7 separate regions of the Homo sapiens genome follow, and regions 2, 3, 4, 5, 6 and 7 are each linked to region 1. Evidence: fine-mapped expression QTL. A gene starts in region 1. Each other region holds a variant in brackets. All regions are shown on one strand. Distances are between the middles of the regions.

Region 1 (4,069 bases):
AGCACAGGCGAATTTGCTAAACTTGCCTGCTGCTAATAGCATTTCATCTCCTTTGTGAGTAATCAGACATCAGTGCTCAGTGTCACGTGTCAGTGTCAGCGTGTCAGTGGCACGACCACAGATGTTTACCCATATTGTCATCATCATGTGGAAATAGAGAAGTTTCAGCTTTCAAAGGTGAAGTCATCTGTCTGATGCCACACAGTAATAAATCTGTGTATTTAATCTATGTTTCCAATGCCAGAGCTAATACTGTTCACCTCACACTAACCTGCTTTCAGAAAAATAATAGTGGATGTCAGGTAAGTTTATAGTTTGAGTGCCTTTTGGGAGGCCTCCTTGGAAATCCAAATATTCAGGGAAATAGTGCCTGAAATCCCACTCTTCCAGTTCAGTTCCTTTGGCCTGGCATTTAAGGCCCCCATTACCCCCGATCTAATCTCTCATTCTTACTGTTCGAAGATCCCTTCTATCTAGCTCTCTTTATTGCCAAACTGATGTTTCTGCTTCCCCCCATCACCTCACTCTGTTAGACTTTCCTGCCTCTCTGTCCAAGTTCATGACCTTGTCTCTACCTGGCAAACTCTAATAATTGCCAGCTGTAAATGCTTAACAGCTATTCGCTAGAAAAATTAATTTCTTTGCACTCAGCATTGCTCTAGGAATCTTCTTTTAAAATGCAAACATAATACACACATCAAGATAAGAAGCACGCACTCCATACTGTTTAAAACGACTGGGATGGGAGAAGGTTTTACCTTTTACATATTGCCCCCCTCCTTTTTCTGCAAATGGAGTAAAGAATAATAATTACTTTCATAATAATGGTACCTTTTAAAGATTCTTGGGAAGCTAACGCATTAAAGTGCTAACACTAAGATCTGAGGGTGAATGAGCTTGCTGATGTGCTTCCTAGTTTAGAATGGGAGAAGGCGCGTTGCACACTTTTGGAGAAGGGTCTGGGGAAACGTGAGGGGAGTGTGGGGCTGTAGGAGATATACTTCCTACATTTTACAATTAAGAGAGTGGAGAATAGGGAAATTGATGGAGGGGGTAATGGGTGGCGTTTCTGGAAAGCTTGTTAGCCGGAAACGAGTGTTGGAGAGTGACTTTAAAAAGCTGGAATATGACAACGACAACGAATCTTTATAGTGAGCCTGTTGTTTTCATAGTGTCTTTCATTCACTCAAATTATCTAATTAAAGCTTCACAGTGATCCTCTTAGGTTATTTCTCATCTTACAGATGTGCAAACTGAGGAGAAGGAAGTGTAAGGTCACGCCGCTGGTAGAGTTGGGGGCCAAATCCAGATCTGTTGGCTCTGGAAGCTGTAAATCAAACACAAAAAGGAAAAAGTCAAAGGCGGTCTGGAAGGCAAGCCTGGAAGGCACAGAAAAGAGAAGCGTCCTCATACTTTGTTCACTCTAAACCATTGATTCAGGGAGAGGGAAGCAGTCTGTGGCAAGTCGGAAGTGCGACGAGGACGAAGACTGGGTTTGGGTTGGGGAACCCCTGTCTGCTGAGCCCCTTCACTGCGGTCTCCTCTGCTTGCTCCGCGGAGCTCAGGAAACGCGGCTTGTTTTGGTCCCGCGCGGCCGCCGTAGAGTCCCCGTTGCCATGGCTCCTGAATTCCGACGGGGACGCGCTGAGGAGCAGGGGTGAAGGGTGAAAAGCGTCATTCGAGGTCCGGGTCCGGCTTGCGGGGTCAGCGAACTGGAGAGGCGCCATGGGCTGGAGTAAGCCCCCCTCCACCTTCCGTCCTCGATCGTTCCCCTTGTGGAAGTAGTCCCGGGTCTCGTGGGATCCTCGCCGCCCGCTCCCGCCCTGCGCTGTCGGTTCCCCCGCGCCTGGGCGGACCCTAACCCCACCCGGCCCTCCGCACCGCAGCCCCGGCTGCACCAGGTCCTCTGCAGACTGGCCGGACAGCCTGGCCTTTTCCAGCTCAGGTTCCTAATCTGTAAAATGGGCGGGGCCGTGGGAAGGGGAGGAAGAGGCAGAAAGGCACTGGACTCCAGGAAAGGGGTCGGGGAACGTGCAGGGGTTTTGGCGCCAGACACACCACGTTCCGGCCAAGTGGCTCCTTACTGGCTGTGAACGTGGGCCAGTCACTGTCTCCAAGCCGCAATCTTCGGACTCATTCCGGAAGGCAGTGTAGCCTAATGGTGGAGGGTTCCGACTCTGGAGCCAGGGTTGAAGTCCTCCCTCTTCCTGTGACTTTGAGCGAGTGACTTCACCCCTTGGGCCTCAGCTTCTTCATCTCCAAAATAATGGCAATCATACTACTGTTTTAGACACAGTAAGTGTTATAAACGTGTTTTTGTTTGTTTGTTTGAGACAAGAGTTTTGCTCTGTCGCCCAGGCTGGAGTGCAGCGGCGCGATCTCGGCCCACTGCAGCCTCCGCCTCCCGGGTTCAAGCAATTCTCCTGCCTCAGCCACCTGAGTAGCTGGGATTACAGCGTGCACCACCACGCCAGGCTAATTTTTGTATTCTTAGTAGAGACGGGGTTTTGCCATGTTGGCCAGGCTGGTCTCGAACTCCTGACCTCAGGTGATCCGCCCGCCTCGGCCTCTCAAAGTGCTGCGATTACAGGCGTGAGCCACTGCGCCCGGTAGTAAACGTGTTTCTTTAAGAATATACTAACAAACTGCAAGGTGATGCGGGTAAGTTATTTATATTGTATGAACCATTTTGATATCGACAACGTTTTTGAGCTCCCCATATGGCAGTTTTGTACAGCTCTACCTAATTGATCACTTATCATTGTAAAAATGTCATAATTAACTTTTTTTAAATCAAGAGACTGCTCCAGATGATGGGCTTTCTGCCCTGGAAGACCTGACAGCCTGCAAGTGGGAGAGGTGGGGGTCGGGGGGGAGTGATTTGTAAATGTTGAAACTCCTTTCCTAAATCAGCTACTGATATTTCTTCCTCTCTTCTCAGGGCTGTCTCCCCATCCCCTGGTCTCACCCTAGTTGGTTTTTTTCTTCTTCTCCTTCTCCTCCTCCTCCTTCTCCTCCTCCTTCTCCTCCTCCTCCTTCTCCTCCTCCTCCTTCTCCTTCTCCTCCTCCTCTTCCTCCTCCTTCTCCTCCTCCTCCTCCTCCTCCTGCTCCTCCTCCTCCTGCTCCTCCTCCTCCTGCTCCTCCTCCTCCTGCTCCTCCTCCTCCTGCTCCTTCTGCTCCTGCTCCTCCTGCTCCTTCTCCTCCTTCTCCTTCTCCTTCTTCTTCGCTTTTTTATGTCGGGAATTTTCCTTTGCCCTCTTTCTCTGAGTCGTGCCCACTTTGATTTGTTAAATCATTAACTTGTCAGACTTGCATCGGAGTGTCTACCTTGAATCAGGTATTGAATGCAGGATACAGTGAGGAAGGAGGCAGATGTGGGCCTACCCTCCTAGGGAGGGAGAAGACAAACAGAAGTATAGTGGTTACAGCCAGGAGAGAGAGGGGTGCCTGTGCCCTGAGGGTGTGGGTAGGGGACCTAACCCCAAGGTGGGTGGAGGCTTCTCTGAGGAAGCAGTGCTGTCTGGAAAGGAAACAGGAAAGCTCAGTGAATTGCCCAGAGGTGAGAAAGAGCAGGGCTTCTTGGTGGCTAATTGTCACTGACAGGAACTGGTGTGAGACAGAAAGAAGGAGTGGAGAGCAAAGAGATAAGGAAGGCCTGACAGGTAGGCAGGGATCCGCTCATACAGGTTTTGTACTTAGGATTTAGAAATTTATCAAAAGAGCCACAGAGAAACCAAAAGGTTTTGTTCATGGGCATAGCTTGGCCCTATAGGAGTTCGAGTGGGAGATAGTAGGCTGAACTGAGGTCGTGGCAACAGGACAGATGACAAGCACTCCTCCAATGAGTAGCTCTGATGTGCCAGGCTTGGTTAACATGCTTTACCTGCATTCTCTTGTTTGATCTTCCCAGCAGCCTTTTAAGGCAGGGAAGGATTACTGACATCTCTATTTCTTTGGTGAGGCACAGAGAGTAAATCACACAGTAACTATCAGGGCTGGGAACAGAACCCACGAAGATTTCCTCTGGGTCCTGCATTACACCGCACTGCCGCCCACAGGACTGAGGCGA
Region 2 (4,069 bases), 86 kb before region 1:
GAAGATTGAGAGGGGAACCATAGGTTTGGAATTTAGTTCTGGCCATTGGCAATTTTGAAAGATTTATGCAAACTCTATAAACCTCTGTCCTGCATGTGGATAACAATTGCACTTATTTTCTAGGGCTACGTGAGGTTGAAACAAGATTACATATGTACAGTGTTTAGTGCAGTGCCTGGTTTGTAGAAAATGCTGACACACGTTGGATATGATCATTACACTTATAGGTTAAGAAAGCAAACTCGAGAGCCATCTCATCAGGGTTTGAATCCTAGCTCTACTTACTCATCACGTACTGGCTATGTGAATTTGGGCAACTCTCTAAACTCAGTTTGCTCTTCTGTAAAATGAGAATAATAATACAGCATCTCCCATGGAATTGATGTAACAATTAATGTGTTGATATGTGGAAAGACCTTAGAACAGTGCCTGGTACATAGTAAGCACTCCTTAAAGTTAGCAATTATTATGATCATTAATAATAAGGTTCTAATATGTGCCAGATCTTTAAAAAAAAAAAAAGTAGACCAAAGTCTTTCTGATGTGAGCTCTTCGGAAAAGTGGATTTGTGGGCACAGGAAGAGCAGAGGGTCTCGAATAAGTCAGAAAGATTTTCCTCCCTCATCTAGAAGAGATAAGCCAAGGCTGGAAGAGGGAGGATGAGGGATAAGAAAAACAGGAAAAGGAGAAGAAGAGAACTGTGAATTCCAGTAAAGAGAATACCAGACAGCTGTGAAGCAGAATAGCTGTCTGTTAAATTTAGGCAGATGTGACCAGGAGTAGCCTTGAGTAAATGTGACTATATTCTACAGGAGTCACTAAAGCAGCAGAGAGTCAGCAATGACAGATGGCTCAGGAAGTGACCTGTGTTAGGACTATGCATCTGCTATGTGTTGCTGTGTAACAAATTACCTCAAAACGTGGTGGCTTGAAATACCATTTGTCACTTCCCAGTTTGCGTGGGCCAGGGAGCTGGGCAGGGCTAGCCTGGGTTGTCTGCTTCTGGGTCTTTCCCAGTTCCAATCGAGCATTAGATGGGGCTGCAGTCAGCTCAAGGCTCAACTGGAGAAGGATCCACTTCCAAGCTCACACACTTGGTTTTTGGCTGGATTCCTGGCTGTTGGATGGAGCATCAGACCCTTACTGGCTTTTGAGACCACTCTTGATTCCTTGACACATGGGCTTCTCCACCATGGCAGCTTGCTTCATCAAAGCAGGCAAGCAAGAAAGTAATAGAGTCCAACAAGATGGAAGCCTCATCATGGTAGTGGAAACTCAGCACCTTTGCCTTACTTTATTTACAAGGAGCATGTCAGCAGCCTCAGTCTACACTCAAGGGATGGAGAATAGACATGAAGTTCCAGAGACAGAGAACTTTGAAATTAGATGGGCCCTCCTCCTGACAGTTCCTGCTGCCTAGAACATGTTCTACAGAAGATCCTGCCATGTGGCAGAACCTCAGGGGGAAAGGGAACCCCAGGAAAGGATGAGATTAACTTTTCCGCCAGCCGGACCAACTGGTGCCTCAGAAGAGAACTTGATTTAAGAAAACAAATAAAGAATACACCTTGCACATCTGTGCTGAGGACTCGATTATTTCTCATTTCTTTTATTTCATTTAATTCTTCAAGCCATCATATGACATATATATTTTTATGTTTATAATTGAGAAAACTGCAACTCAGAGGGGTAAGTCACAAATCTGAGGTCACACAGCTAGGATGGTAGACAGGTTGAATTTCTGTCTTGTGACCCCAGAATCCGCACTCTTTCCACTATGCAGTGGTACCTCAATGTTGCTGGAATATATATTTGAATGTACATTTCTTTTATCACTTACAGTAGTACA[G/A]ATGTGTATGAACCCATAAACACCATCAAGTCTTTGAGCTCTACTATAATGTAAATGTAAAATGCCATCTATAGAGTTTTTTGTGAAGTCCAACCTTCATTAGATAAACCTATTGCCTCTATAGAAATTTTCATAAGATCAAGCTCTTGCTATTTAATAGTATTCTGAATTTAATAGCATCAGTGCATTATCCTCAATAAATTTAAGTGATTTGGACAAAGATCACTACTCTGCACTACTTATAACTGAATGTGGCCATATGATGAGCAAGAAATGTCAGTTCGCTGAGTCTTTCTCACGTTCTCGCAGCCAAAGGTGACAAGTTAGCTCAGAAAACCACCCCTCCAGTGACCAGGGTGTAACCAGCTGGCCTGACACATGGGCTGCACATTCCCTGCTGCTGGCCCAGGAAACTCTCTGAAATCTTCAGCACACTCCTCAGTGTGAATGCCACTGATGTGAGCCCAACAGGAAGTGTGACCTCATTCTGCTTCTTTGCCTCTGGTTACGCAGGCTGTTTTCAAAAGAAAACAAGAGAAGTTGTAAGACTGACTTTCCCAAGAACTATACACTCATTTATACCAGGAAACAGACAAGAGAACAAGAGGCTGCCGAAGACAAAACTTCTCTGCAAGCACCTGTGCACAGCAATGTGCGTGGGCATCTGTGAGAAGAAGGTAGGGTGGGATTCCCTTTATTAAGAGACTTCTGCACCTGTTGACATTCAGACATTTTTCAGCCGAGGAACTGCTCAGTCCTCAATTTTTCCACTGTCAACCACAGGAAGCTTCGTATTTCAGTAATAATTTTGTCCTTTGTCAATTGGAAGAAGAGGCTGGGAACTCCCTTTGGAAGGAACACGTATGCACACATTATTTTTCAGAATAGATGTGTCGCTTTGATGGAACTGGCAGATTCTGTTTCTTGAAAAGTTTTAGATCTGTAACTGAAGGGCTTTTTTTTTTCCTACTGTTACTAATTTTCTATTGAATGTCAGTGTACTGCCTGTAGATTCTTCTAAGCACTTGTGAGATAGAGCAATAAGACCTTCTTTTGCTGCAGGATTTATAGGCTTAAAATTAAGCTTAATACTTGGGGAACACTAAAATAAGGTAATTTGGGCTGGGCATACCCGTACAATATTGATCAAAAATGAAAAGAACAAGTAACATACTAATATATTACATTACACTGGGATTATTTTATATCCCAAACAAATGAAATTTGTAAATGTGTGCTTTGATTTAGAAATCTTCCAAGGAAGGCCAGAAAGTTCTCCTGACATCTTTACAGGTCTCTATAAACCAGGTTTATATTTTCCTAATAGGGTTTATATATAATTTATTGAAATATTCAACTTGAAGCTGTAGAATTAGCCTGGTTTGATTGATTGAATTACAGCTACAAAAACAATCCATTACTAGTTCTCATGTTACAAAATGTGGCCATAAGTGGTGAATCAGAAAATAATTTACTCCTACCTTATAAAGCGATTAGGATAGTGATACTATATACAAAGTTTCATAGTCAACAGAAGTTGGTTCTATTTGATGAACAGTAAATGATCAAAGTTTGCATAATTTACATACTTTGATATGTTTTTAATTAGTAATTGAGAAATTAAATCATGTCTTCATGGGAACTAAGTTCTAAAATCTTCCCAATGGTATGCTATCTTTAGTGCAACATTACTTATGCTGTTTAGGAATGTCCAGGCTGATAAAAACTATTAAAATCACTCTCTGTGACTACCTGTCAATGGTTCAAGTTGTTGGGAAAAAGACAGACACCAATCTCCAAGCACTGTTTGAAACTTGATAATGAAGTTGACTTGTGTCAGATGATTAAAATACACGTAAGTTTGTTTTGGGGCTAAATGACTGTTAGAACCAGTCATTTTATTAAGATTTCTTAATCAAATACCTCACTTTCATTATTTTCTTTGGATTACAAATCAACCTTTTTAAGTCTAGATTTTCCAAATAAAGTGTGGTTCTTATTTACAGAAAAATGTTATTGAGATGCACTGAGTGAGGCAATGGAAAATGTTCAGTCATAGAGGCAGACACAACTTTAGAGGGGTTGTGTCTTCAGTCTGGTCTCCTACCTTCAATTCTGTATCTCTGTATTATTTCAGTAAACAAATCTGACTAGTGCAATTAGTAGATGCCATCTGTTTTGGCATAATTTTTCTATTTTTAATATATAGTCCACCTTTTT
Region 3 (4,069 bases), 160 kb before region 1:
ACTTGTTTTAAAAGAACCTAAAGAGGAAAATTTCACCCATCCATAATCTTGCTGGCTTAAATCCAAATTTTCTTTTGGGCTTTCTCAAGTTCATTGGAATGTGGGTAAAACAGTTTCAAACACTGTTGCAGCATATAAACAGTATTAAATGGGCCGGGCACAGCGGCTCACACCTCTAGTCCCAGCACTTTGGGAGGCCGTGGTGAGAGGATCACTTTAAGTTAGGAGTTTGAAACCAGCCTGTACAACAAAGCAAGCCCTCATCTCTACAAAAGCAAAAATAATTTGCTAGGCATGATGACCTGTGCTGGTAGTCTTAGCTACTCAGGAGGCTGAGGCAAGAGGATTGCTTGAGCCAAGGAGTTTGAGGCTGCAATGAACTACGATCACACCAGTATTTCAGCCTAGGCAACAGAGCAAGATCTTGCCTCAATAAATAAATAAATAAAAATTAATTTGAAATTATATCATTGAAAGGAATTAGTGTATCTCACATATACTTGCATGGCAAAGATTACCAGTTTTATGGTGTTAGCAAGCAAATTTATCATATTCTCCACAAATCTAGTTTGAATAACTCCCAAGCATTAAACTTATGCTTAGCTGAGTTTTGGAAGTTGAGTAAAATGGATGACAGAGCTGAAAGTTATGTAAGAAGCAAATAAAAGTTCCCCCTTACGCTTGAATAGCCACCTAGACAATGGCTCCAACTGAGTGGCCACAAGAACAGCTGTTGCCTTCCAGCAACTACCCCTTAAATTGTCATTGCTATTTCCTGAGACAGCATTTTGCAAGTGTGGTTTCCTGATCAGCAACATTTATCATCACCGGGGAACTTGCTGGAACTCAGAAATTCTGAGGGTGAGGCCCAGAAATGTGTTTTAACACACTCTCTGGGCAGTTCTGACACATGCTAACATTGAGAATTTCTGGCCTAAGGCCTTATTAATTTTCCTTTTCTTTCTCCTGACTTAGTACTTGATCATAAGGGCAGGGCAGAGACTAAGAACAGAGAGTACACATCTATGGCTCTTTTCATGCTCTTTCAAGGGTTCTTGTTTCAGCACCACAACTAGCCTAGATATAACCCCTATTCTCCATCTTTCTATAGCAAGAGATAATCTTCAGATCTTGATGATTCACAGTAAGGATGTTCTTAATGTGATTATCAACCTCTGCTTCTCCATAGCATCACCTAGAAGTTGTATCTTGCCAGGATCCTTCCAGAAATCTCATTCAATTGTGCCTCATGGTAGGATCCATGATCAGTATAGTTTAGAAGAACCGCAGCAATGATTGTAAGGTTCACCGGGGGTGAAGAACCACTGAACCATGGGAAAAAGTAGACTTGTATTTGCTGGAAAAGGGTGGTGGTAACTTCTTTTTTAATCCCCTCCCATACCTCAAGGTTCTAAAAATAAAATCTCACAAGTGTCATGAGCTATAAAGGAAAGAAAATGCTTTCTCCATAACGAGCCAGGGAGGACTTAGACCTGGAAGCAAACGGTGCAAAAGCAAACATTTAACCTAGTATCCACCATCGAGGTCAGTCAGAAGAAAGAAAAAGGGAGGAAGTGAGCTCACTCACAAGGATCCTAGGTTGTACTTATGCTGAAGGCCCCGTCCCTTATTCCTCACTCTCTGACTCTGGTTGCTATTGCATTAGAGCTCTACTCTTATGCCACAGCCCTCAATGTCTACAGCTGGGATCTCTGTGCCTATTGCTTACAATATTGGAAGCAAGGTAAGAGTCTTCAACACTTTCCACTGTCAGGACTGGACCTGCAGGAAAGTCTAACAGATTTGAACTCCAGTGCTCCCTTCACTGCTGACGTGGCCTTCTGACTACCTAAGGGCGCTTAGTTCCTGCCTGTGTTTAAATCAGTTGTCTGACTACATCTCAGGACTTTGGTTACAGATGTATCTGACCAGGAATTCAAAGTATACTTTTAAGATTACCATAAATGTTTATTTAAGAAAGCATTATCTACGGAGTTAAGACAGACCTTGGTTAGAGTTTTAATTCTAACACTAGCTAAGCCGAAAAGCTACTTACCCTGTAAGTTTCGGCTTGTTTATATATCAAATGTGAATAATACCTACTCTGTCAGTTGATAGTGAAGAATATAAAAATATATGTGCAAAAACCTACAGAAGTATATACACTAGTAATATTTTCCTTATGACTCTCTTCCACCAATAAGTATAAAGCCAATTTAACTTTATATAAATTAAAAAGTAGCTCAAATTTCTCACATCAAGACTTTCATATTAGTTTAGCTAACAAGTTTTTAAATCGCATGCTCTTAACAGAGTACGTTTTATTCTCAGTTACACATTTAGGAATTGTAAGTCTTGTTTTAACCATCACATGGTTACACATACTTTCACCACTAAGATCAACGGATAGAATTGCCCTTGGGTACTGATAGGTTGTAGTTTTCTCCGTAAACATGCTTCGTGAAGCCAGAGAACTCCCAGAAGAT[C/T]GAGTTAGTGGAGAAGAGCACCTTTCCAAAAATTCGAGGGAACTGTCTTCATAGTCTGAATAGTCTGCAACATAAGATACAGAAAGAAATATTAATAAAGTGTCAGATAATTAAGGTCACTATAAAAATAACGAAAGTCATGTTTCAGGATACACCAAATAATCATGCTACCACTTTCGCTTCTCATCCATGAAAAGCTACATATGGATCTGATGAACTGGGTTTAGCAAGAACACTTGGGAAACAAATATACCCCAGACAATATATACATAGTAGGGGGCACCAGGTTCTAACTGGTACCTGTAAACTTTTGTGAAGTACTATAGAGGTGAAAAAGGATTATTTCACATTTTCTCTCCATTATAATCACAACTATGTCTGCAGTAAAATATGCAAGATGACAACACATGGACACATGGGGAAGAACAACACACACTGGGGCCTGTGGGAAGTGGGGGAGAGCATCAGCAAGAACAGCTAATGCGTGCTGGGCTTAACACCTAGGTGATGGGTTGATCTGTGCAGCAAACCACCATGGCACACATTTACCTGTGTAACAAACCTGCACATCCTGTACATGTACCCCAGAACTTATTCGGTTGGTGCAAAAGTAATTGAGGTACTTTTGTACCAACCTAATAAAAGTTGAAGAGGAAAAAAAAAAGATATGCAAGATGGAAATTCACCTTTTTTCTTCCCCACAATTCGTAAAGAGGTTCTCCTGATGTCTGGCACACCAATTATACAGTGATAATCTGATCAATAAATTTTTCAAGTAATAAATCTCTGAAGGTAATTAACTAGTCCTGGAAGAACTCTGTAAAAATTCTGTTTTTCTCAGTTTTGTAATGAGTCCCACAGATGTGTGCAAGGGGAGAGGCCATATGCAGCTTACTGGAGAGTTGAGGGTATAGTAAGGGAAGGAAAAAAGGAGGTGGGGGTGTGATTCCAGGCATGTGGGAAGGCTCTGAAGCTGAAGAGTGCATGCCACATTTGGCAAGCTGTAAGACTGGCTGGAACACAGTGAATAAGGGAGAAACAAAGCTAGAGTGACAGGAGCCAGATTAGCTTTTTTTAAAAAGTTTTACCCTAATGCAATAAAAAGTCATTCAATGCTTATGTGGAGGAGGAGCAAGATGTGACAGTTTCATTTCCAGAGGATCACTCTAGCTGTGGAATGGAGGATGGAATGCAGGAAGGCACACATAGAAGTGGGGGGACAGTTCAGAGGCTACAGCAGTAGTCCAGGAAAGAAATGTTGGTGGCTCAGAACTTGGGTGATGGCAAATAAGGGGAAGATTTTAAGGAAGATGGAGTGCTGTTATAGACTGGAGGCCGAGAGCTAAGACGGCATTATCAAGATTGATTTCCAGGTTTATGCGTGAGCAACAAGGCAACAAAAGTGGGTATGAGATGGGGCTGAAGAGTAAATGCAAGGTGGAGAAACCAGAGAAGAAACAGAAGTTTAGAAGAGGGCTCTGTAAGATGGGAAATCTTACACATTACCTACATGAACCTTAAGATGTGGGAAAGGGGGATGGCAGTGGTGAGAAATGCTAGATTAAGAAAAGCAGACATTCCCT
Region 4 (4,069 bases), 42 kb before region 1:
ATGCATATAAAGAGATTTCCAAAGGATATTCACCAGATTTTATTAATAACTTCTTCCATATGGTGGGATTTTTCTGATGATATTTTCTTTTCCTTTTTGTATTTATTCGTAATCTCTTTCAAATGATTCACATTTTGAAAATAAAAACAATAAAAATACTATTCTTTTTTGAAATAAATCTACTCAGTGACATCATCACCCATCATATTGGCAAAAATTCAAATGCTTGGTCACACTTTTTTGACAAGGTTGTGAAATAGCAGACATGCTCCATCATTGCTGTGAAATTTTTAACAATTTATTCTTAAAATCCCCAGGTAGGGGGGCTGGGCACGGTGGCTCACGCCTGTAGTCCCAGCACTTTGGGAGGTTGCGGCAGATGGATCACGAAGTCAGGAGATGGAGGCCATCCTGGCTAACACGGTGAAACCCCGTTTCTACTAAAAATATAAAAAATTAGCCAGGCGTGGTGGTGGGCACCTGTAGTCCCAGCTACTCGGGAGGCTGAGGCAGGAGAATGGTGTGAACCCGGGAGGTGGATCTTGCAGTGAGCCGAGATTGTGCCACTGCACTCCAGGCTGGGCAACAGAGCGAGACTCTGTCTCAAAAAAAAAAAAAAAAAGAGAAAATCCCCAGGTAGGGAGATTCCATAATGTCGACCAAGTTTAAAGTTACATATCTCCTTTGACCTGGCCAGGCCTTTTCAAATAATTTATTGTGTGAAATGACATATGTAAAATGCTATTCATTGCATTTTAAAAAATGCTATTCATTGTATTTTTAAACAGATTTTAAAAATTATTTTTAAGTGCACCTTTAGTGGTTTTAGTATATTTACAAAATTGTGCAACCATCACCACTCTAATTCTATAACAATTGCATCACTGAAAAAAGAAACCCTCTACCCATTAGCAGTTACTCTCCTTTCCTTCCTCTTCCACCTCCTGAAAACCACTAATGTACTTTCTGTCTCTGTGAATTTGTCTATTCTGGACATTTCCTATAGAGTTATACAATATGTGGACTTCTGTGTCTGGTATGACTTATGTAGCATAATGTTTTCAGAGTTCATCCATGTTGTAGCATGTATCAGTACTTCATCCTTTTCTATGGAAGAATAATATTCCATTGCATAGATATACTGCATTTTGTTTATCCATTCGTCAGTTGATGGGCATTTGAGTTTTTCCCCATTTGACCATTATGAATAATGTTGCTATGAACACTGGTGCACAAGTTTTGTATGGACATACAGTTTCATTTTTCTTGGTTAAATATCTAGGAATGGAGTTTCTGGGCATATAGTAAGTCCATATTTAATATTTTTAGAAACTGCTGAAACGTTTTCCAATAGGACTGCACCATCTTACACTCCCACCCCCACCAGCAATGTATGAGGAATCCAAATTTTCCTCATCCTCAACATTTGTTATTGTCTGTCTTTTTGACTAGAGCCATCCTGGTGGGTGTGGTGTGATATCTCACTGTGGTTTTGATTTGCATTTCCCTGATGGATAATGATGTTGACCATCTTTCCATGCACTTATTGGATGTTTGTTTGTGTATCTGTTTTACAGAAATGTCTATTCAAGTACTCTGACACTTTTTAAACCAGGCTGTTTGCTTTTTGTTGTTAAGTTAAAATAATTCTTTATATATTCTGCATATTAACCCCTTCTCAGATATGTGATTTGCAAATGTTTTTCCTATTCTGTGGTTTGCCTTTTCACTCTGTCGAATGTATTCTTTATGTGCAGAAGTTTTAAATTTTGATGTAGCCCAACTTCTCTACTTTTTTTCTTTTTTTGTGGTCTGTGCTTTTGGTGTCACATTCAATAAATCATTGCCAAATCCAATGTCATGAAGTTTCTCACCCATCTTTTGTTGTGTTTTATAGTTTTAGCTCTTACATTTAGGTTTTTAATTCATTTTGAGTTAACCTTTGTATATGGCATAAAGTAATGCTTCAACTTCATTCTTTTGCGTATAGTGTAGTAAGTTTTGAAGTGGAAAAGCATGAGCCTTCCAACTTTGTTTTCCTTCCTCAAGATTGTTTTAGCTATTTTGGGTCCCTTGCACATCATTTTGGTAATAGCAAAAATAGAAACAACCCAAATGTCATAAATGGAGGACTGAATAAATAAATTCACACCACAGAACAATGTGCAGTTGTGAAGTGCCATAGAGATAGATGTAGTAATAAAGTTAGAGATGGGGTGGGAAAGACAGAGAGACAGAGAGAGAGAGGATAATTTATATCTTTCAAGTTATAAATTATTCATAACT[A/G]TAAAGTACAAGCATTGAATACAGTTGTCCCTCAATACCGAAGGGGGTTTGATTCTAGAGCTTCCCTCAGATACCAAAATCCTTGAATACTAAAGCCCCTTATATAAGATGATGTAGTATTTGCATATACCGTATGTATATCCTCCCATATAGTTTAAATCATCTCTAGATTACTTATGTAGATGGGTTATATTACTTATGAAATTTATTACAGGATAAAAAGAGGCATCACTGTTATTAAATGAAATGCTTGTTTTTGAAAGGGGGTGTTAGGTCTGACTGGTCTGAGTAGCTTTTTTACAGACAAAATATGCTATGGAATATACAGTGTGGGTGATCTAGATCTCCATCTCTTCACTGCCATGACTCTGATTCAGAAATATATTGAGCCTTTACAAGCAAGGTGTGGAGTGGTGAGGGGCGTGTGAGCAAACAAATGTGGGGTCTGGTCACTGCTAGGTTGCGATAGCACCCGGGCCTAGCCACAACTTTGCTCCGAAATCAGAGCGGGCAACAGGAGCAGGGAGAGGCCAGGGGCAGGAGCAGGCGCTTCCAAGCCTGCAGGCACAGGGGGGCTTCCAAGGCCCCCAAGAGTGCAGGGATGCCTGGGTTCAGAGCCATGGCTGAGCGGCTGCAGCTGCACCTGGGAGGGCGGGGCCCCCTCCAGTTCCGGGCTCCCTCCTGTTCTCGGCTCCCTCGGGCTCTGCGAAGCCCACAACCCTGGCCAGGCCTCCCCTGCTGCAGCTGGCGTCTTTGCAGCAGCCACTCCAGATGGGCTGCTGCTGCCATCGCTTATGGGACTTCAGTTTTTCCCACCATTTCTGTCTTCCCTTAATTTCTTGTTTTGTCAGAACAAATTATTTCTCTCACGGAATATTTTGCTTGTATATGATTAATACAGAAAACTATTCACCTCCTCTAAGAAAATATACTAACCCACAGCAATAACAAATGTGCTATTCTACAATTAGCTCATTCCTTTTTGTTGCTGAATCATATTCCATTGTATGGATGTACCACAGTTTGTTTATACATTCACCTATTGAAGGGTGTCTTGGTTGCTTCCAGTTTTTGACCACTTTGAATAAAGCTTCTACAAAGAATCATATGCAGATTTTTGTACAGACACAGAATTCACCTCAGTTGAATTAATACCAAGGGGTGCAACTGTTGGGTTATATGGTAAGTCTAAGTTTAAATTTGTAAGCAAGTGAAGCTGTTGGGTTATATGGTAAGTCTATGTTTAACTTTGTAAGCAAGGGCCAAACTATCTTCCAACTGTTTGCACACTTTTCATTCTTTTTTTTTTTTTTTTTTTTTTTTTTGAGACGGAGTCTTGCTCTGTCGCCCAGGCTGGAGTGCAGTGGCGTGACCTCGGCTCACTGCAAGCTCCGCCTCCCGGGTTCACGCCATTCTCCTGCCTCAGCCTTCCAAGTAGCTGGGACTACAGGCGCCCGCCACCACGCCCGGCTATTTTTTTTTTTGCATTTTTAGTGGAGACAGGGTTTCACCGTGTTAGCCAGGACGGTCTCAATCTCCTGACCTCGTGATCCGCCCGCCTCGGCCTCCCAAAGTGCTGGGATTACAGGCATGAGCACCGCGCCCTGCTGCACTCTTTTCATTCTTAACTGCAATGAATGAGAGTTTCTGTTGCTCTGCATCCTCCCAGCATTTTGTATTGCCAGTTGTTTGGGTTTTAGCCATTCTACTAGGTATGCAGTGATATCTCGCTGTTTTAATTTGCATTACTGTAATGAGGAATGATGTTGAACATCTGTTTTTA
Region 5 (4,069 bases), 210 kb before region 1:
CAGGTTCACTGTAATATTCATTGGTCAATTAAAAGGTACACCTAACATAGGAGCGATTACTAAACATTAACCATAGGAGGACGAGGGCCAGGTCATCTCCACTTTTATAGCCTTCATCAGCTCTAAGATGAAGATGCTTGCACACAGAAGACATCCAGTAAAAATCTAAGACACTGATTGAAGTAATCAATTATATGAAAGTTTTAAAATATACTCTATCAATCTTGCCAACACCTGACTGTGTTGATACAGGGAAGTCCCTTCCCCTCTGTGAGCCTTCGTTTTCTCAGCCATCTCTAAACTCCATTCCAGCTTTGACACTCAATACCCTCCCACTAGACATCCTTTTTTATATGTTAAACACACATACACACACACACACACACACACACACATTTAACTCTTCATATGCGTTAGCTCACATGTTGGGAGCTTGCTTGGCTCAGACCGCATTCCTTCCAGTTCTTGGCCAGCCTCATCCACACACCAGCAGTTCCGAAGATCAAAATGTGCCAAAGGAGTGCTGAAGTCTGAGTAGGACCCCGGGTATTGGCTGAGTTGGCCATTTAAGATCTGCCAGAAGAGGTAGGGCTCCAGGAGGATATTCTCCCTGGGCTGGGGCCGTTTCCCTTCCAGTGCTGCTAGTGGGACATCTTGCAGAGAAGGGTATTGTGACAGCACCGGGAAGACATCTTGCTGGCCAGCCTCATACAGACTTTGAATAAAGAGACTGAAGTTTCCGGAAGCTGCTTCTCTGTAGCTCATGATCTTCACTAGCAGCTTGGCAGGCGTCAGATCCTGGCCCTTGTTCTGAGCCTCCCATCGTTGGTACAACTCGAAGACCTGCTCAGGAGGCCCATTGCATTGCACTTGTCTCCACTGCCCATCGGTGCTGCACTGTGGGATGTAGGTGTCGGAAAGGGTGGGTAGCATGCTGGAGTTAGAGAGCAGGGCCTGCACCGTCCTGAGGAAAGCTTGCTCAGACTGTAATTGACAGGGCGTGGGGCCTGGGGAGGAACAATGAGCAGGTGTTTCAGTTTAAGAAATTTAACAAACTGGAAAGACCAAGATAAAACCACTTAACTGTCCAAACTCCGTCTAAAACCTTATATAGCCATAGAAATACCATGAAGCTTAAATTTGTAAATAATATCTAGATAGGCATTGCCCCATGACTAAATCAGCACCATTGACATCAGTTGGTGATCAGCACTGCAGAAATGTGGCAGTTCTTTAAGGCCAGACAAATCTCCCCATTTACTCCTAGGTCTGATTAACATTATCTAGGCATTCCTGGATAATTTTTAATATAAGCAGTCAATTTTGTCCTTAACTGAAGTGTAAGCATTGGCCAGGAGTGGATTTCTATTACTGTACTGCATTGGGTCAGGGCCTAAAGAGAGACTCAGGGAACCTACAGATTGAATACCCAACAGACTTACATTTCTTGGGCTTCCCTATTGCACTTCGAGTTCCAGGAATGGCCTGACCCTCAGCATCAACACAGTAGCACTCTGAGTTGAAGCACTGGACAGGCAGGAAATGTCCCTCACTAGTACAAGCAGGGACAAACAAGGTGGAGCCAGCAGGCTGGCTGCCCATGAGGCTTTGCATGCGAGCCCTTTGCTTTTCACAGTCTGTGGGGCACCTTGGCTGTCCACCTCTGACTCTTGAGCCTGGAAGCTCTTTGCCCCAGGAATTCACACACCAGCACTCTCCGGAAAAGCATTGGACATCCTCATAGCTTCCTTCTGTCGTGCATGATGGGACAAATAGCCTTTCAGGTGTCTGCTCACAGGTCTGGGAGCTGAGTACCGTTTCCATCACATCACCTAAATCTCTTGCCACATCTTCTGGCACAGAGATAGCATGTTGCAAGAAGAGAAGGAATTCTGGAAGCTCCAGGAGAGAAGCAAGGAATTTGAGGGCATTTTGGTTCTCTTGTAGGTTAATTTCAAAGCCAAAGCTGCCCACAGTTGGCTTATTCATAGTACCATCCTTCTTAGCAGCTTCAGGGGTTCCTGTGGAAGAATTTGAATCTAATCCCACAGAGAGTGGCTTGGCCAAATCTTCTT[G/C]TCTCCCTCCATTCAAGAAGCTTGCAAGACCAAGTTGCTGGAAAAATTGACTGAAGTTAAATGTGCCTCTTGTGCCAAGGGCTCCAGACAAGTTAAACTGGCCAACATTCACCAAAAATTTCCCTCCAAAAAGGTTTTGCTGGAGTCTCTTTGGGTTGGTGGTAAACTGAAGGGCAAGACGAGCCAGCCCTCGGGAGGGAAAAATTGCTCGGATGGCTTCTTTGAGAAGATTTTCTGAGACAGAAAACTGTTGGCTCTGTCCCTCCACCATTGGGCGGAGAAGCCCAGAGTCCACAAAGAGCTCCTTGATCGTGGGTGGGCAGGATGTGGCAAATCTGGCTACTCTTGGAGAGGCCCATCTTTTCTCTGGGGAAGAGAACAGGTCGTGCTGGCTGAAGTAGCCTGAGGTCCCAAAGTAGAGTCTGGACAAGGCCTGCTGCCTTTCGGAGGCACAAGATTGGCCTTCAGCTGCATGAGACAAAGTGAAATGGGAGAAAAGGTTTTAATGTCACAAGCAATCCTGAGACAGCTCCTCAGATCCTTTAGGTAGTAAGAAGCCAGAACATTCAATCAAGGACACCTACGTTTGAAACCACTTTCTTCTCTGTGTCATTTTATTTTTTCCTTTCCCCTGAGCTGCCTTTGTGGGGCCATTTTGGAAGTGTGACTTTTCCAGTTGGCATGACCACTCCACCAGCTCTCACTAGAGGTTCATCCCTTCTAAGGCAAGTCTTGAAAATACTGGCTCACTTTCTGAAAACCTGACCTCACTTGCCAATGGTACTCAGGTGAATAGTGTCCCCCACCACACACAGACATGATGTTCATGTCTACAGGGAACCTCAGAATGTGGTCTAGAAATAGGGTCTTTGCAGATGTCACCAAGTTAAGATGATGTCATACTGGATTAGGGTGGGCTCTAAATCCAATGACTGATGTCCTTATAAGAAGGTCATGTAAATAAACAAAGATGCACACAGGGAAGAAGGCTGTGTGAAGACACAGGCACAGATTGGAGGGAGGCAGCCACAAGCCAAAGACACCAGGGATTGCCAGCAACCACCAGAAACCAGGAAGGGGCAAGGAAGAATTCTGCCATAGAACCTTCAGGGAGAGCATGGCCCTGCCCACACCTTGATTTCAGACTTCTGGCCTCCAGAACTAGGAGGGAATAAATTTCTGTTGTTTTAAACCACCTGGTTTGTGGTGACTTGTTGTGGCAGCTCTAGGAGACTAGTAGACCAACACATTCCTATGCGTATTTAATGAAATGTTGTCTTCCAGCATTCTCTCGTTGGAATTCTCAATAGACTTCAATGCTTCACTATGTGATTTTAGTGTGGCTAATTCCTCCTTGGGAGTAGTCTTTTCTAGGCTAGCTATGGTCTCCTTGAGGGCAAGAACCATATCTGAAATGCTGTTAGTGGTTCCTATTATAAGAAATATTTTCCTATATTGTAATATATATTATAATATAGGAAATATAATACTTCCTATAATATAAAACAATAATGCCTACCCAGTGTACACACTTAGAACATTCTTCTGAGCTTCTTGACCTTTCCTAGAAATTACTAATTTAACAGTGATCAGCTCAGCCAACTCTTTGCATGGTCAAGTCATTCTATCTGAACATCCTAGGCTGACTGTAGCCACATTAAGAGAGAAAAAATGTAAAATTCAAACACCAAGGGGCTGTCTCAGTTACATAGGTGGATGTAAAGTAAGCTCCATTTTTCTCCATAAAATCATAACTCTTACCTTTTAACCACCACGCCCCCCCCCCAACTTTTAAAATATTTTTTTCCTCTTGATTCACATAAATGCCAAAAAGAAAGTCAGCCAATTTCCTTCTGTAACCAGGCAACAGAGAAAGAACTGGAAAATGTGGTGGGAGGGGAAAGATTGGCAGCATCAGAGCACGTAACATCCCTCAACGAGGCCATGGCCTCTTTTAATGGATATTACAGGAAGGTATGGCAGAAATAAAGTTT
Region 6 (4,069 bases), 78 kb after region 1:
CCAGCTCCTGGATTCATTGATTTTTTGAAGGGTTTTTTGTGTTTCTGTCTCCTTCAGTTCTGCTCTGATCTTAGTTATTTCTCGCCTTCTGCTAGCTTTTGAATGCATTTGCTCTTGCTTCTCTAGTTCTTTTAATTGTGATGTTAGGGTGTCAATTTTAGATCTTCCTGCTTTCTCTTGTGGGCATTCAGTGCTATAAATTTCCCTCTACACACTGCTTTAAATGTGTCCCACAGATTCTGGTATGTTGTGTCTTTGTTCTCATTGGTTTCAAAGAACATCTTTATTTCTAGCAGAGATAATATTTAAAGAGATAATGGCTAACTGCAGGATTTATACTTAGGGTTTTTACATGTATACCCACTGCACAAACTGAAAACATTTTATATACCTTCAGTCTGGGAGATATTGTGCTATACTTTTTATGAATAGAAAAATAAAATTGGCTTGGCCCCTGCCCTGAAAGACTTTACCACCTACATTCATATATCTACAATTATGACTATTTAGCAAAAATTGTATATGCTCTGTGATAAACAGTTTAAACAACTCACTTTCTGCAATAACCCTGTAACCTGGGGATTTTTATTATCCAGATTATTTAATGAGGCTTGCTGAGGTTATATACATTTCCCAAGGTCATAATTTAATAAATAGATGTGTCATGTCATAGAAAACACTAGATTGGGGTCATTAGTTCTCTTCTTTCAGAATCCTGTAATAAATGTGATAAGTAGACACACCATTTAGGCTCTTGCTTTTATCCTTATACCAGTTAATAATAACGACAAAGACATAGCTACTATTTATTGAGCATTTACCATGTGCCACACACAGTGTTGAATACTTTGAACATCTTATGGAGTAGGGGTGATTATCATTTTGCAGAAGAGGAAATGAAATTCTGATGTTGCCTTAAATCATAGGGTATGTTTCCAAATGAACACAAACAATGCCTCATAATTTTCATCTACAGCCAGATTACTTTTGGATCATTAGCAGCTTAATATAGTAAAGTGCTTCACCTTTAAAATTTTGTTCCCAATATTTCTACTCTAAAATAAGGAAGTGGTTTAGGATATTTCATGAGTATCAGTATCTTAGCAGTCTTTATTCTCCTGTGAAATTCCCCCCCAACCCCACTAAGAAAATTGTTGAGGATCAAAAGTAGATACAATGAAATGTATCCTTTCTTCCATGATTCCTCATACCACTTTAATTGGAAGATAACCTGCATAGTTACCCAGCTTGTTGTCAACTGGGGACAAGGAAATACACATTATTTGCAGATAATTGTTTTCTTCAAGGTTATAGAGAAGCCTCTTTTCCAAATCATGGGCATCCTCTCTAAAACCTTGCCTGGCATCCTCCCAGACCAAGGGGTTGTCTTTTCTCTTTTCTGTGTTTCCTGGAAGTGAAATAAACAAATGTCACTTAAATAATGAAATCTATTGCTGCCAACTTCATACATTCTTGTCAAAATAAACATATAGTAGATACCAGATGAAGGTCAGGCCCTAGCTGCTCAGAAGGTAAGTCAGATCTCACCAGGAGCTCCCTGCACAGCTGACCTTGATCCAAGAATGGAATCAGCTTTGCGGGCACTGGAAACTCACAGGCCTCCCGTTG[C/T]GAGGTGAGGCTCCTAGGTATGAGGGAGAAGGCTCCTCAGGGCTACACACAGGGCAGGTGGTGCTCTCAAGAATGGCAGTGCTCGGTGGGCTCTGGGGAACAGCCACGTCTTGAAACAGACCCATCAACTGCATCTTTCTTGTATTCTTTATATCCATGAATCTGTATATGGTTATTTTAAAAATAAAATAAGAGGTGACCCAAGGCTAGCTCTCCACTGGTCAAGTGATGTCTCTGTCCCTGACTGCAAAGGCTCCAAACACAGTCTTTCTGTGACTTGGTTTCATAGCTTCTGCAGAACTGCAAAGTTGCCACTTAAAATGGGCTTTGTCCCTTTTTCCCATTGGCCAGTTGGGGTGGATGACAGGTCATTCTTCTAATTGCCAGCAATGAGGAGGAAAACATAAGACAACATCAGACAACAATTCAAGACAACTGGGAGAAGCCATAGACTGTGGCAATTCCCTGCACAGCTGTCCCTAGTCGGACAGATCTCATCACAGTCCCTTCGAGGCTGGGAACCAGGCTGATGCCCCCATCACTCTGGATCCTTACAGGGGGCAACAGGAGAGGGAGTGTCGCTCTTTGTTTTATTCCAGTGTTCCTGATATTGAAGCTTTCTCCTAGGCAGTGAGGCTAAAGTAGCCTAGGCAAGTCAGCCTGGTTATTTGCTCACTTTATCACCTACTGTGAACACCACTACTGTGAGTGGGAGGAGCCTCAGGTCCTGGGTACTTAGCCTGCAGGTCAGACAGAAGGGTTGAATTCAGGATGTCATTTTTTTCCTAAGGCACAAAACCCTCTCCAGCATGTTTAGAGACTGTCTCTAGCAAGATTGTAAAAGAAAATTTTATTTTCATTTTATATATTATTCTCAGTCTTAATGTTTGTCCTAACTTAATAAAATATTTTCAGTTTTAGACTGCAATGTGTGGATGATCTTCTATGGGGAACTGTCAGAAGAGTGACCTTCCAAGTAGAAAATAATTTTGAAGGAATCAGTTGATAGTTAGATTTGCTCTCTGGTTACTCAAGGCCACATAACTGCCTTATGTAACTGTCAGTGTTGATTTTACATATACATATCAGTAACTACATCTTTAAAAATTTTCCTCATAATATAAATATTAGCAAATTATTGGCCTGAGAATCAATGACATTTTGTATGCACCTGCCAATTGACGGGCCACATGAATTCATGGTCAGCATGGACTTCCTATCCTGCTATCTTGCTGATATCCAGCCTCAATAATTTAAAATAGCCAAATGAACCCATGATTTCCTTCTGCAGACCTGCTCCTCCCATAGTCATCCTTGTCTCAGAAAATGGCGCCATCAACTGATACACAGTTGTTCAAGTCAATGATTAGGAGGCATGCTTAACTACATCTTGCGGGTACCACTACTGAAATACATCCTGAATTCAGTTTCTTAACACCACCTCCCACCATCACCTCCCATCAAGCCAGTGTCCTCCCCCAACTGGACTACCTTGGACAGCCTTCTCACGGTTTGCCCTGCTCTATTCTTTCCCCTCTTTGATACTTTCTCCATAGAGAAGCCAGAATGCCCTTTTATTTACTTTTTCGTTTATAGTTGTGTTTTAAAATATTTTTTCTTTCCTATTATGAAATTATGACTGTAGAAATAGAACACAATGTAAAGAAAAAAATAACTCATGGTCCCACTATCTGGATAAACATTTTGTTTTGTTTCTTTTCAGTCTTTTGTCTGTGCTCAGGTGTAATTATTTCAACGTGGTTGTTATTTATTTTTTTTAAAGAAGTAAATTTTGCAAAATAAAAATATACATCTTGCAAATAATAGCTTTATTCCCGTGTTGAAACCTACCAATGGCTTTCCATGGCACTTGAAATATATTCAGACTTCTTGTTGTGGCCCAGAAGGCTGTGTACAAGGTAGTTTCTGCCTATGTTTCTGATACCTTCTTCCACTTTTCTCCTCTCATATTCTGGACACAGCTTTTTTTTTTTTTTTTTTTTTTTTTTTTTCCCCTCTGTCTCTCTCTCTTTCGGGAACACAAAAAATTCCAAAAAGGTTCTGAAACACAGGAAATTCCTATAAGGTTCTGGAATACAGAAGGTTCCAATAAGTTTCTGGAACCTTGTTCCCACCGGCAGGACTTTTGTGTTTTCTGTGCTTTTTCTGCCAAGAGCATTTCTGCCCCTTTCTCTGTTTACATCTGTATTAGTCTGTTTTCACACTGCTATAAATAAATACCCAAGACTGGGTAATTTATAAAGGAAAGAGGTTTAATTGACTCACAGTTCCACATAGCTGGGGAGACCTCCAGATCATGGTGGAAGGTGAAGGGGAAGCAAACGTGGACCGTGGCAGCAGGACAGTGTGTGAGGGAGCCAGAAAGACTACCATTTATCAAACCATCAGATCTCGTGAGAATTCACTCATTATCACAAGA
Region 7 (4,069 bases), 36 kb before region 1:
ATTGTGCCCATGCCACTGCACTTCAGCCTGGGCTACAGAGAGAGAATTTGTCTTAAAAACAAAAAGAAAAAGAAAAAAGAAAAAAGAAAAAGGAGTTAATGACATTTGTTTAAAACAATTATTGATTTCTAAAGTGGCACCACCTAAGTTACCAAATCTTTATTAAGAATTTACAATATGTTCTATACGGTATGGGGTACCAAGTTTAGCTCAGTTGCTGTTAATGAAGTGTCTACCATGGGTTAGACACAGTCACTAGGTACCAGGGTGTGAATGCCCCAGCATGTGGCTGGCTTTGAGATTTTATCATCTCATTAGAGTAAAGGACTTGTAAGGGGCAAGGTGAAGTTGCCTTTTAATATGGTAAGTGCAAATATCAGGTTAGTACAGGAGCCAGGGGGAGCACAAGGAGGTCAGTTTCCCAGACTAAGAGGAGTGGGGAGTATGTTCAGGGAGGGCCTCCTGGAAGAGCCAATATCCGATCTGCAGGGGTTATATCACCTGCTGTTTTCTCAGAACTTCCCATTGTTCTGAGCTCATTGTTTGTTCTCTCCCAAAAGAAATTACATCAGGACAATATTTCTATCCTGAACAAACACTTTTATCTTCTGACTCATTTATGGAAGGAGATCCTTTCTTTGATTATTTGTGTACATACTTTGACTTGTTCTTCTCTTGTTCCCAACTCCATTTTTTCCTGTTTCCTGCCCACCAGCCTCATATACACACACATTTGCATTTAAGACCTGTGAAAACAAGGACTATTGACTTCATTTTTGTATCTACAACCAAAGCCTTGAAAATAGTATGTACTCTGTACATATTCATTAAATTTAATGTATTTACTGCATCATTTCTTGAAGTACTTCCTTGAAAGCCAAGAGCTCTGCGTGTATATTAAAGATTTTGCAACCCTCTCCTTCTTATATAAACATACCGAGAAACTAATAAACCAAAGATATGGTTATTAATATCGAGAATCAAGAATGACTCATAAGTCTCCTCTAACAATCAATGATGAGAATCTAAGGAACTGAATTCAGTTCAACAAATATTAATGCAGCACCCTCCCCCCAACACACACACCCATCCTGCACTGTGCAAGTTAGATTAGATTAGGTGCCTCTTTAGCACCTCACACGGCTCACATCATATCCCTTTTCATAACATAATGAAATTCTTAGTCAACTGCTTTCCTGATTAAATTTAAAGCCTGTGAAGATAGGGACTATCTGTCTTGTCCACCACTGGCCTGAGTGTCCCTTGCAAATGAAGGTCAGCACAGGTATCTCATGTTAGTAATGATGTGTTAGCATCAGCGGTACACGTTTTGCACACTTATGATTTCATAGTAACAAAATGGGTCACATCTGTTCTCTCTTAAATGAAGGAATGTATGTTCGTATACTTAATGAATGAGTGAATAAACTTTAGGGAATAAAAATATGGGGAAAATCCACCTGTTACCCTACAGGCTGTTCTACGGGGCAGGAGAGAGCAATTTTCTGGAAGGTGTATTCTTTTGAGCCATTTTCTTTACCAAGTTTTTAATCTTCTTGAGGATCATGATTACCTTTCACTTAAAGTGCAATTAAAATACTGATATAATACAGAAAAATGCCATAAGGGCAGGTGGGAAGAGGAAACCATAGGAAATATTAGTTAACTAAGTACCACGCTGGGCTGAGGGGTCAAAACCTCTATAGTCTTTCAGACAAAAAGGAGAGCACTAAGAACTGCTGGGATAAAAGCAAAAACGAAAAGTACCCTTAGTTGAGGCTGCACTCTTCCTAGTTGTGATAATTCAGGCCCGTTGTGGGTATGGGTGTGGGTGTGTGCTTATATATGCGCAAATGGGTATGCAGTGATTAGATACTGCATTTCCTGTGCATGGGGATGAATTATGCATTTCTTTTCTTATTTCTCCAATCTAGGTTTGTCAAAATTTGACAACCATTTAGGAATGCCTT[C/T]GATGAATGTCCTCCATCTGAATATCTGGAAATTGTCCAACTTGCAGTCTACTTGGAATCAAGTGTTTTATTGGAAGGGAGTAAGCGAGTAATGGAGAAAAAGCCATTTTAGTTTGACTATGTGATTTTAAAATGATCTCAGTTTTTCCATCAAAATTATAATATGCTCATGAAAATAATATTAATTTGCCTTCCCTTTGCAAACACCGGCAGTTGAAAGGAAAAGGACGGGGAATGTGATGGAAAAGAGACCGCCTGGAATAAATGTCCCCCTATGATTCTTTAAGGCAGTGGTTCTCGAGCTTGAATTTTCATTAGGAAATTCTGTGAGGAGCTTGTAACCAGATTTCTGGGTCTGCCACATGCACCTATCTCTTGCTGAATTGCTTTAATAGAATAATGAGAGCAAGTTTGTCTAACTAATACCAACCTGACAACTTGAATAACAATAAATGCAATTTGTACATAAAATATAATGCTGCAAAAGTTTGTCATTCACCTCAGTGGAGTGACTTGATATTAGGTGGTAACCGTAGATGATGGTTAATATGAAAATGGACAGGAAAGAAGCATTTTCTGAAAGTTATATTCTTTTGAACCACGTTCTAAACCAAGTTTTTAATCTTCTTGGGGCTCGTAATTACCTTTCACTTTAATGTCACTTAAAGATATAACACAGAAAAATGCCTTGAGGGCAAAATATAGGCAAAACACCAATGCGCTTTCAAATGCATGAAAATGGTGCAGTTGTACCCTTGAGCCTTGACTCAAGGGCTGTAGATGTTCCCTTTCCACCCCCCACACTTGGTGCGTGTTCACAAAGCAAATATGGCCTGTAATTCAAATTTGTTCTATGTGATACTCTCTGAGTAAAAACTCATACATGCAGAAAATTGTCTTTGCTCGAAATGATAATGCCAAAATATAACTTTATATATAATTTGCATTTAGTACATTTTTGGTTAAAAAATAAACTAATAAATAAGTGAAGTCATCAGCAAATTTATATTTGTGTGTGTGTATATATATATGTATATATATATTTTTTTGAGAAATCATGGCAGAACATCATTCATTGAAGACTGTATTATTTCCCTATTGCTGCCTTAACAAATTACCCTAAACCAAGTGGCTTACGGCAACACAAAGTTATTGTTTTACAGTTCTGGAGCTCAGAAGTCTAAAATAAAGGTCAGCAGAGTTATTTTCCCTCTGGAGGCTTTAGGGAAAAATCTATTTCCTTGCCTTTTTTAGCTTCCAGTGGCTGTCTGTATTCCTTGGCTTGTGGCCCCCTCCTCCACCTCCAAAGCACACCACTCTGATTTCTTACTTCCATCATTACATCACCTTCTCCTCTTCTGCAGTAAAATCTCCCTCTACCTCCCTCTTTAAAGGACACTTGAGACTACATTTAGGATCCACTCTGATAATCCAAGATAAAATCTTTGACTTAATGACACCTTCAAGGCCCCTATTTTCATATAAGGTAACATTGATGGGTTCCTATGATTAGAACCTGGCTATTTTGGGGGACCATTAGTAAGCTTACCACAGTTGTATTTGAAATAGCCTCGTGTAATAATTTAGTAGGTCTGGGATATGTCCCATGCCTTTGCCATTTTTACAAGTAGGTTAAGTGATCACAAAGTGATCCACAATCCACGTGCATGAATGCTTTGAAGTGGGATTTAAAATGAATTTAATGGAGAACTAAATGCATATGGAGCCTTTCATTTAATACACTATTAGGAGAACTTCCATTGAGAATTTCTACATTTCCTTTGTCTATGTGTAACACACATTTTTCTACAGAGTCATTTGATTTAAATGATAATGTTTTTCAAAGTAAGATACTGAAATAGTACTAACTGTTTACGTGCATATAATGCTTCATTGTTGACAAGGACATTTTCTCCCCGGCTGTATAAGCTTACTATGGCTACAGTAACAAGTTACCACAGATTTGGTGGCTTAAAACAATGCAAATTTATTATCTTACAGTTTTGGGGGTCAGTCCAAAATGAGCCTTACAAGGGTAAAACCTAGAGACTGCTTGCATTCCCTGGCCCCTGGCCCCCTCCTCCATCTTCAAACCACTT

Alleles and levels. Positions count from the first base shown, and alleles are read on the strand shown. Sizes are in standard deviations (SD) of each study's normalised expression. Not every link is listed here.
With allele C in place of G in region 5, the expression in gastroesophageal junction of the gene that starts at base 1,674 in region 1 is lower (large effect, 0.89 SD a copy in GTEx).

The links.
Region 2: its variant is fine-mapped to the expression of DNAAF11 in whole blood (INTERVAL, PIP above 0.99).
Region 3: its variant is fine-mapped to the expression of DNAAF11 in whole blood (INTERVAL, PIP above 0.99).
Region 4: its variant is fine-mapped to the expression of DNAAF11 in whole blood (INTERVAL, PIP above 0.99).
Region 5: its variant is fine-mapped to the expression of DNAAF11 in gastroesophageal junction (GTEx, PIP above 0.99).
Region 6: its variant is fine-mapped to the expression of DNAAF11 in whole blood (INTERVAL, PIP above 0.99).
Region 7: its variant is fine-mapped to the expression of DNAAF11 in whole blood (TOPMed, PIP above 0.99).

Annotation. Positions count from the first base shown.
Region 1 is chr8:132,673,150-132,677,218 of GRCh38, reverse strand. DNAAF11 (dynein axonemal assembly factor 11) reads left to right here and starts at 1,674. Exons shown (of 12, transcript NM_012472.6): 1 at 1,674-1,735. The coding sequence starts at 1,726. LOC105375767 (a long non-coding RNA gene) reads right to left here and starts at 1,589. Exons shown (of 2, transcript XR_928665.4): 1 at 1,414-1,589; 2 at 1,161-1,327.
Region 2 is chr8:132,758,933-132,763,001 of GRCh38, reverse strand. It overlaps TMEM71 (transmembrane protein 71), which reads left to right and starts at 2,420. Exons shown (of 10, transcript NM_001382403.1): 1 at 2,420-2,526. The variant G/A (reference allele first, on the strand shown) is at 1,850.
Region 3 is chr8:132,830,716-132,834,784 of GRCh38, reverse strand. It overlaps PHF20L1 (PHD finger protein 20 like 1), which reads right to left. Exons shown (of 21, transcript NM_016018.5): 15 at 2,386-2,550. Among named protein-coding and RNA genes, the nearest start is that of TG, 34 kb to the left of the region's middle. The variant C/T (reference allele first, on the strand shown) is at 2,487.
Region 4 is chr8:132,714,952-132,719,020 of GRCh38, reverse strand. The region is part of intron 7 of TMEM71 (transmembrane protein 71); the gene reads left to right. Among named protein-coding and RNA genes, the nearest start is that of DNAAF11, 41 kb to the right of the region's middle. The variant A/G (reference allele first, on the strand shown) is at 2,287.
Region 5 is chr8:132,884,922-132,888,990 of GRCh38, reverse strand. It overlaps TG (thyroglobulin), which reads right to left. Exons shown (of 48, transcript NM_003235.5): 9 at 1,443-2,543; 10 at 423-1,007. Among named protein-coding and RNA genes, the nearest start is that of TG, 20 kb to the right of the region's middle. The variant G/C (reference allele first, on the strand shown) is at 2,076.
Region 6 is chr8:132,594,921-132,598,989 of GRCh38, reverse strand. The region is part of intron 10 of DNAAF11 (dynein axonemal assembly factor 11); the gene reads left to right. Among named protein-coding and RNA genes, the nearest start is that of HPYR1, 35 kb to the right of the region's middle. The variant C/T (reference allele first, on the strand shown) is at 1,630.
Region 7 is chr8:132,708,848-132,712,916 of GRCh38, reverse strand. TMEM71 (transmembrane protein 71) reads left to right here. Exons shown (of 10, transcript NM_001382403.1): 10 at 1,935-2,976. The coding sequence ends at 1,950. Among named protein-coding and RNA genes, the nearest start is that of DNAAF11, 35 kb to the right of the region's middle. The variant C/T (reference allele first, on the strand shown) is at 1,971.